Regions from separate parts of the Homo sapiens genome. Here region 2 is linked to region 1. Evidence: fine-mapped expression QTL. Tissue or cell type: whole blood. Region 1 holds a variant in brackets; the other region holds the start of a gene. All regions are shown on one strand. Distances are from middle to middle.

Region 1 (4,844 bases):
TTCCAAAGCACTAAGATTACAGGCGTGAGGCACCACACCTAGCTGGCCGGGTATCTTTTCCAGAGCACTGCACAGACTCCAACTGTCCAATGTTAACATTAACAAAGAAGGGAAGGTGGGGAAGAGCAACTGGTTCTGAGGAAAATGGAAACTCCAGCTTAAAGTGTAGGGACAGCAGGCTGTTAGGACTACCTGGTACTCATCTTTGTATTCTCCACCACACCAGGATTCACTGACATTTGCCTTTCGGTGCACTATATGTCTATTAGGAGGCAGGCTCTTAGTGTTCTGCTCTAGCAAATATTATAAAAGTTGTATCTCTGAGCCCAAAGAGAGAGTGCTGAGCAGTACAGTCCACTTCATCGAGCACTTGTTGAGCCCTTCCTTTGTCCCCTGCCACTGTGTTAGAGCCTCCGTATACCAAGGGGAAGGAAATGCAGAGACAAAAATCACTGTAACACAGTATAGCTAACCAAAGGACCACATAATCCTGTGAAATGGGTTTCTCAAGTTGGGTTCTGTGCCTTGACCAGAGAGTGCCTACGCTGCCGTACTCCTCGCCCTCCAACATCTTCTGGTAGGTGGCGGTCTCCACATCCAGCCCAGCTTGATGTTCAGCAGCTCTTGGTAGTCACACGGAAGATGAGCCTGGTCCTCCCTGGCCTGCTGCAGGGCATCTCTGAGCTCTGCCAACTTGGCCTGGGCATCCTTGAGGGTCAGCATCGCCCCCTGCTCCATGCTGCTCAGTGTCAGCAATTGCCACCTCCAGGTTAGCATTCCGAAGCAGGAGGAGGAAGTGCACTGAGTCCCTGGATCCAACTGCATATGTAGCAGGTGAACACAGGTCTCCATCTTTCCCGTTAGTGAAAATCTTTAATCTGTGTGCTATGTGGCTGGTGATGCTAACTTCTGCTCATAGCATTCACATCCATATAAAATAAACCATACTGGGAAACTCCAATGATTGTCGAGCCTTTACCCAGAGATAGTGGTCACCTGCTTCCCACCTCTTGGGAAGGAATAATCCATGTTCTGAGATCCCAGAAACTCAATGCCACATAGTTTATGAAGTTTTGGGGACCATGTCTACCAGATTGAGAGAAGATCATTCTGCCTTTAAGTTGATGGATGTAAGTTAAGACAGCGTAAAGTCCTTGTTCTATGTGGTACCACTTGGCAAGCCCAGTTGCAAAAGGTCCCAATCAGGAGTCTGAAAAGCTGCCCTACCTGCTAGGTCCAGGTGGCTCCTCTGGCATCCCAGGACACCACTTTCATCAGAGCCATAATCCTGGGCTTTGAGGAACTGCCCCCACCTGCTTGTTGATGTTCTCAATCTCTGCCTGCAGCCTGTGGATCATCCTGCTGAGCTCCGCAATCTCATTTTTGGTGCTCCTCAAGTCATCATCATGTCTTCTGGCTGTGGTCTACAGCTCCCCAGGCTACAGCTGGGTGAACAGAGAGAGCAGGTAGGGAAAGATTATCCCTGACCCTGAAACATGTGTATGAAAAGGGCAATAGAATCAATCCAGAAAGTCCTAATTCACATAAAGCCCACCAGGCACGTAGAGTGGAAAGAATCACTTAACTGAAACTCACAGTTGCCCTTAAAGATATCGGGTAGTCAAATGAAAAGCACTATAAGGACTCTACAAGTTTATGGGGCTGGGCACAGTGGCTGACACCTGTAATTCCAGATACTTGGGAGACCAGGGCGGGTAGATCACTTGGGGTCAAAAGTTCAAGACCAGCCTAGCCAATATGGTGAAATGCTGTCTCTACTAAAAACACAAAAATTATCTGGGCATACAGGTGCAAGCCTATAATCCCAGCTACTCAGGAGGCTGAGGCAGGAGAATCGCTTGAAACTAGGAGGCAGAGAGGTTGCAGTGAGCCGAGATTGTGCCACTGCAGTCCAGCCTGGGCAACAGAGTGAGTGAGACTCCATCTCAAAAAAAAAAAAAAGATTCTGCAAGTTATGGAAATTTGTGAAAGAAATTTCAATAGGTTTCCTAGTGAATAAAATATGTATTCTCTGGGATGGTGCCAGAAAGGCTGGAGGTAAAGTTCAGAAGCCCTGGAAAAGGCTGGTGGGGTCCAGATTGATCCA[ATGATCC/A]TTATTTACCTTGGTCTGGTACAGGGTCTGGGCCTTGGCCTTGCTCTTCTAAGCCATCTCCTCATACTAGGCCTTGACCTTGGCAATGATGCTGTTGAGGTCCAGGTGCCAGTTATTATCCACAGATAGGACCACAGACATATCACTGGATTGCGACAGGCCTGGTTATACTCCTACAAGCACAGAGGGGCACACCACTGGGCAGTTGTAACCATCTCTCTAGGATGCCCTGAACCGACCATCCATTGGCTCAGGAATGTTATGAGGTCGAAAAAACTAAATCTGTTTTTATTGCCCAGACAGCCCATGCAGGTGACTCTGGATGTTTCCTAGGTGGCCAAACTGAAGGAGTTTCAGCTGGCACACGGGTTCCCGCCAACCGAGCATTTAAAAATAAGCAGCAGGGGATGCTAGGGAACAGAGTGTGTCCCTCAAGACGACCAACTCTCATCAGTTCCAGTTGGTCCACACCGGCAGAAGCGATTTTGGAGTTTGCTTTGATGAGGAAAATGCTTTCCCTGAGTAGTCCCTGCGGTATTTCTCCAACTCTGTGACTGAAACGCTGTCTGCTTTTCTCTAACCGTGACAGGAAGTCAAGGGGAAACCGTGGGATTCAAAGGTTTGAAGTACTTCCTCGCGTACTGCTAAAGGAGTCGACCACACCAAAATGAGTCTACGTGATGCTAGTGGGGGACATAAGAGATCAAGAGATAGACGAAGGTCAAGTGACAGATCACGAGATTCATCTCATGAAAGAACAGAGTCTCAACTCACTCCTTGTATTAGAAATGTGACTTCTCCAACACGACAGCACCATGTTGAACAAGAAAAAGACTGCAGTTCCTCTCGTCCAAGCAGTCTGCGTCCTCAAAAAGCATCCCCAATTGGTTCCATTAGCAGTGCTGGGAACAGCAGCAGAAACAGTAGTCAGTCAAGTTCAGGTGGTAGCTGTAAGACATCTGGGGAGATGGTGTTTGTATATGAAAATGCAAAAGAAGGAGCTCAATATAAGAATGTCAGAACGAGTGACACTAATAGTGGATAACACTAGATTTGTTGTAGACCCATCCATTTTTACTGCACAGCCAAATACAATGTTGGGCAAGATGTTTGGATCTGGCCGAGAACATAACTTTACACGACCCAATAAGAAAGAAGAGTATGAGGTGGCAGAGGGGATTGGTTCCACTGTGTTTTGAGCTATTCCGGATTACTATAAAACAGGAATAATCCATTGTCCTGATGGCATATCTATTCCTGAAGTGAGAGAAGCATGTGACTGTCTTTGTATCTCTTTTGAATATAGTACTGTTAAATGTAGAGATCTCAGTGCCCTAATGCATGAGTTATCAAATGATGGTGCTCATAGACAATTTGAATTTTATCTGGAAGAAATGATCCTCCCTCTCATGGTAGCTAGTGCCCGGAGTGGGGAACGGGAATGTCATATAGTGGTACTTACAGATGATGATGTGGTTGATTGGGATGAAGAATATCCACCACAGATGGATATTCACAAATTATTTATAGCACAAGAATATTCACAAATTATTTATAGCACAAAATTATATAGATTTTTCAAGTACATTGAAAACAGAGATGTGGCCAAGTCAGTTTTGAAGGAGAGGGGTCTTAAGAAGATTAGATTGGGAATAGAAGGTTATCCTACCTACAAAGAAAAAGTAAAGAAAAGGCCTGGAGGCCACCCAGAAGTTATCTACAACTATGTCCAAAGACCCTTTATTTGAATGTCCTGGGAGAAGGAGGAAGGAAAGAGTCGGCATGTAGACTTTCAGTGTGTAAAGAGTAAATCTATCACCAACCTTGCAGCAGCTGTGGCAGACATTCCCCAGGACCAGCTGGTAGTCATGCACCCAACTCCACAAGTGGATGAGCTGGATATTCTCCCTATCCATCTGCCTTCTGGCAACGGTGGCCTTGATCCGATCCTGATGCACAGAATCCAGTGCTGTAATGCTGATGTTCCTTGAAACCATAACATGCTACTCTTCACAGTGACCTTGTACTCTCCTCATTCTGCAATGCAAGGCCACTCTTCTTCATTGAGATGCACATAACAATGCTTAGGATGTTGCAGTGTAGGCTTTTTCAAGACCAAAGGTAGCTGAATGGTTTTTTTAAATGAGTACAACTCTAGGATTTTGAAGTTCCAGTTATATAAATGTATTTGTTTACCAGTAGGTTTGTGAAATTTGTTCTTTGTATGGCAGACTGTCCTTTTTCACACATCTAGGTCTTTTCAAAAGTGGTGGAAATTGGCAGCTGGGGTACTTTCAGTTTGGATTGATATTCACCACACCCCAGATAAAATGCAGAGTATTATAGAGTTGCACTTTATAGATGGTGGTTAAATGGAAATGTTCAAGCCATTTTATAGTTGTGATGCACAATATAATTTAAGTGCTTCTGTCAAAGTATTCCTCCAGTAAAATTTGTATAGTTTGCTGCCCTTGATGAGCAAAAAGTATTTATCTTGGACGTACCCGAATGATCTGGATGAGATTTAATGCTCATATCTTATCAGTTCAGTTATCTCCAGGGCTGTTTCACCCTTTAGAGTGAGTCATATGCAGAGAGTGTGAATGTCAGAGGTGGTTTATTATCCAGTCTGCCTTACCCTTAATCTGTTCACAGATATTTATTTACTTATGCTTTTTTTTTCTCAAGAGTTATGGGATAGGAAAATGAAGTGTTTGCTCTTCATTTACTA
Region 2 (4,844 bases), 45 kb before region 1:
CCGTGACCTCCGAGTAGTGACTCCTTGCTCCAGTGAAACCCTCTAACCCCTGCCTTTGCCTGAAGCGTGGTGATACTCAGCCAAATTTCCCACGCAGCATGATCGGAAGCCACGGGAGCACGCTGCTGTGTTGCGCTCCTCTTCGGCAGCCTCTGGGCCTCAGCACTCTCACCCTCCTCCGCCCGCTCACACACTGTCCCATCCCCAGCATCTGCTCAGATATCAGAGGCCTGCCCTGCCACCCAGTATGGCCTCTAGCCACAGCTACCCTGCAGTCAGGCCACAGGTCAAGCTCTGGCCTCAGCACTGAACTCCCGTGGGGACTGAGGGAAAGTCACTGAGTGTGCAAGCGGCCTTGGTGCTCTGTGGGGCTTCCCACTGCATCCCTGAAGGCAAAGTTCCTCCTGGGGAGGTGCTAGTGGCCGCTGTGCCTCGACCTCCAGACAAAAGGAGATGCTGGAGGGAGGTCTTCACCATGGCGAGTTCTCCAGCCTCTGCTGCTGCTTTGGACCTAATCTGAAGTTTCAACAGGGAACTAGGGACAGGGGCTTCTGTGTCTCCATCTGGCCCATCCTTGGCCCTTGATGAGCCAAAAGGGGAAACTCAGACAGAACCCTACATTGCATGCTATTGACTTTAGCCCCAAGAGATACCCACCACCAGGGCATTCACCATGCCCTGCCTGCTTCTCCTGCCCTGGCTCTGTGGCTTCATCTCCACTTCTCTCCTCCACCCCTTGGTATCCCATTTTCTCCAGGAATTGTAACTGTTTGAAATTCCCTAAACGCGTCACGCTTTCATGCCTCCTGGTCCTTCTGCCTGAAAATCCCCTCTGCCCTGAGAACCCATTTAACTCGTGCTCACTTCGGCAGCACATATACTAAAATTAGAACCCATTTAACTTTTCATCCGCCTTCCAGACTCAGCAAGCAGAGCTCATGACACCCTCCTTTGAGCTACCATGGCCCAGAGAGTACTACCCCTATTGACACACTTCACATACACTGTAGTAATTCTCTCCCCTTTAGACGTGGGCTCCTTGATGGCAGGACCTGTGTCCTAGTCACCTGTAGCACCTGGCACGATGTCTGGCCTATCATAGATTCTTAGAAAATATTTGTGGGCTAGATGGGTGGATGGATGCATGAGTGGATAGTTGAATGGATTGATGGATGAGTGAATGAACAGATGAACACGTGTGTGTGTGTGCATGTGTGTGTGTGTGTGTATAAATGGATTGTGTGGATGGGTGGGTGGATGGATGGATGGACGGAAGGGTGGATAGTTGGGTGGATTGATGAATAAGTGAATGGATGGATGTGTGTGTGTGTGTGTGTGTGTGTGTTTGTGTGTGTGTGTATAAATGGATTGTGTGGATGGGGATGGATAGATGGGTGCATGGGTGGATGGGTGGATGGAAAGTGAATAATTATGAATGAGAATGAGGGTACTACACCATGTATCTGTTGAGTATTTTAACACTGCTTATCTCCTTTCCTGCCAAAAGGAAAAGATGGAATTAAATCCCTGCAAGAAGACAAATTGAAGCCCAAATGGGTAAATGATTTTCTAAGGTCCCAGGTCAAGCTGAAACAGCACGATGTGGTGAGAGGTGGTAAGGTGTAATCTCTCTCAGTCATTTGGTCAGTGACCAATGACCCTCCCTGCCCCTGAGGTGCTCACCTTGTCAATGAAGGAGGCAAACTTGTTGTTGAGAACCATAATCTGCTCCCGCTCCTGGGTCTTGATCCTCTGAATTTCAGGGTCCACCTCCAGGTGAAGTGGCTCTAGGAGGCTCTGGTTAATGGTCACCTCTTGGATGCCCCCAGGAGGACAATAAGGACCAAAGCCCCCAAGCCCAAAATTGCTAGTCCCAAATCCAGCACCCCCAAAACCACCTCCTCCAAAGCCACCAGCCCCGGTGCTGCCAACCCCAAAGCCTCTGCCCCCTCCAAATCCCCCTACTCCCCCACCCTGGCAGAAACCACTGGTGCTCCTCCCCATTAGATTAATGGAGATGCTTCTACTGCCACCCAGATTGTAGAGGCTCCTAGAGCCAAACCCCCTTCCATGGATCCCATATCCACCACCACCACACCTCCCTCGAGCATAACACACAGAACCCACTGCCGGACTCCCACCACCAGAGCCTGCAGAAGAGCTGGTACTATAAACCCGCCTGCTCATTGAACTAAACGCGGACTGAGAACTAAATTGGTGGCTCATGTTTGCTGGAGCATCCAGAGAAGCAGGCAAGAGAAAGAGCCTGGCAGGAAGGAGGCAGAGACCAGAGAGGAAAGGAGCTCTGACTCCTTTGAAAAGATCTGGCTCCGGCTCTATATATATACACACACACACACATTACTGGGCTGGGCACCTTTACAATCCTGAAAGGGGAGTATTAATGTTTAGTTTGCCTGCCAGCAACATCTGTTTAAAACCTCACACCTGTGAGTTGCAGAAATCAGATTGCAGACAAACTTCCCCAACTCGATCATTTATCATTCATCTCTTGCCATTTAGAGATCAGAATGCAAGAATCTCTCAGGATCTCATTGCTGGAAACTTCTATACAGATTCTCCCCAAATCATCAGTTCATCTCTTCCTAAGAAACTCCACCATCGAGTTGTTTGTTTCTGGGATGTGCCTGGGAGATCTGGGGCAAAGTTAGATGGTGTTTAGAGACCTCAGGACCATAGCTGGGACAGAGGTGGAAACACTTTCTGTCACAGCATCGTCCTGGTGGGGCAAAAGTTTTGTTCCAATCTCCCCACACACTGCTTCTGCTCCCTGCAGTTATCATCACCATGAGCACCCAAAATTTTATCACATGGAAGTGCAATATTGTGGTCACTGAGTACAAGTGGAGGCCCACAGATTCTGCCCAAGGTCATTCACATTGTGTGCTGCTTGATAAGCCTCAGACTTCTCAAACACAAAACCACACAAGGTACTTCAGCACCAAAAGTCTGTGGTTATAGATTTGTTGAGCATCTACCAGTACCTAATATTGTCTTCTAGACCAGAAGACAAACCATCCCTAACTATCTCTCTTTCTGTTTTATCATTTCCGGTTCTTTATAGACAATACTTTTGTAAAATAGAATTAAAGGAATTACCTCCTAAAGATAATTTTTTAAAAAAGATATACAAAATGCAAGCCCAAATTTTTTTTATTTTTAGATTCAGCAAACAAAACATTGTTTAACTGCTAAAAATAGCAACAATAATAATAATTTTCTAAATGGTTACTCTCAAATTCTGTGCTTACCACAAGGCAATAGCAAAGCACGGTAGACCAGCACTAATCTGTGCTCACCCTCTGAGAAGCACGTCCCAGACAGCATCCTGGGGAAAAGCTCATTCAGTGAGCATCAGTGTCCGCCAACAAAAAAATGTGCGTTTTCCCTCTGGACTCAAATAGCTGTGGCTTTCATCCAAAATGTAATAATAATTTTTTTAACTTGGGGAAAAACTCTCCAGCCTTAGAAAAATGGCTAAGCGATGGCTTGCCCAATTGGATACAATTATTTTAAATCATCTTGTTGGAGACTCTGCAGCAGAACCGGCAACCACTTGTGATACTATGTACCATATTAAAGGGAAAGGGCAGACTACATGATGGAGTCTGCGCTGTGAACTCATAAGAATTAAGAATGCAGAAGGCCGGGTGCAATAGCTCACTCCTGTAATCCCAGCACTGTGGGAGGCCAAGGCAAGCAGATCACTTGAGCCCAGGAGTTCAAAACCAGCCTGGCCAATATGGCGAAACCCCATCTCTACTGAAAATACAAAAAATTAACCAGGTGTGGTAGCACACTCCTGTAGTCCCAGCTCCCACGGGTCAGGGGGGCTGAGGTAGGAGGATCACTTGAGCCTGGGAGGTCAAGGCTGCAGTGAGCCCTTATCGTGCCACTGCACTCCAGCCTGGGCAAGAGAATGAGACCCTCTCTCAAAAAAAAAAAAAAAAATGCAGATAAGACAGACTTTGTGAGTAACTAGAAAGTGAGTTGATTTATTTAGAGACTGTGGGAGGAGTTTTCCTAGGTTCTTTTGTTTGTTTGCTTATTTTTTTGAGACAGAGTCTTGCACTGTTGCCCTGGCTGGAGTGCAGTGGCACAATCTTGGCTCGCTGCAACCTCTGCCTCCTGGGTTCAAGCGATTCTCCTGTCTCAGCCTCCTGAGTAACTGGGATTGCAGGTGCCTACCACCACGCCTGGCTAATTTTTTGTATTTTTAATAAAGACAGGGTTTCACCATATTGGCCAGCCTGGTCTAGAACTCCTGACCTCAGGTGATCCACCTGCCTCAGCCTCCCAAAGTGCTGGGATTACAGGCGTGAGCTACTGTGCCCGGCTGAATTTTCCTGGTGTTTTAAATGTCCTTTTTCTTTATGTTCATTGCAATAAATATTTTTTGCTCACGCCTTTAATCCCAGCACTTTTGGAAGCCAAGGCAGGCGGATCACCTGAGGTTAGGAGTTCGAGACCAGCCTGACCAACATGGAGAATGCCATCTCTACTAAAAATACAAAAAATTAGCCGGGCATGGTGGCACATCTGTAATCCCAGCCACTTGGGAGGCTGAGGCAGTAGAATCACTTGAACCCAAGAGGCAGAGGTTGTGGTGAGCCGAGATTGCACCATTGCACTCTAGCCTGGGCAACAAGAGTGAAACTCCACCTCAAAAAAAAAAAGAAAGTTGTGGCAGAAATCCCAATAGAGGTGGGGAAGAACAGGTGGTAGAAACAAGAGCACTGTGGGGGCGCCGCAGTGAAAAGTCATCCTGGTACAGGGAAATGCTCCAAGGGCAATTCCAAGCTTCCACACCCTCTTCTCATGAA

What was found. PIP is the estimated chance that this variant, and not a neighbour inherited with it, causes the effect.
Region 2: KRT77 starts here. The variant in region 1 is fine-mapped to the expression of KRT77 in whole blood (INTERVAL, PIP 0.98).

Annotation. Positions count from the first base shown.
Region 1 is chr12:52,746,040-52,750,883 of GRCh38, forward strand. It overlaps the pseudogene BTBD10P1. Among named protein-coding and RNA genes, the nearest start is that of KRT76, 29 kb to the right of the region's middle. The variant ATGATCC/A (reference allele first, on the strand shown) is at 2,108.
Region 2 is chr12:52,701,209-52,706,052 of GRCh38, forward strand. It overlaps KRT77 (keratin 77), which reads right to left and starts at 2,316. Exons shown (of 9, transcript NM_175078.3): 1 at 1,684-2,316. The coding sequence starts at 2,226. RefSeq lists an enhancer at 389-558.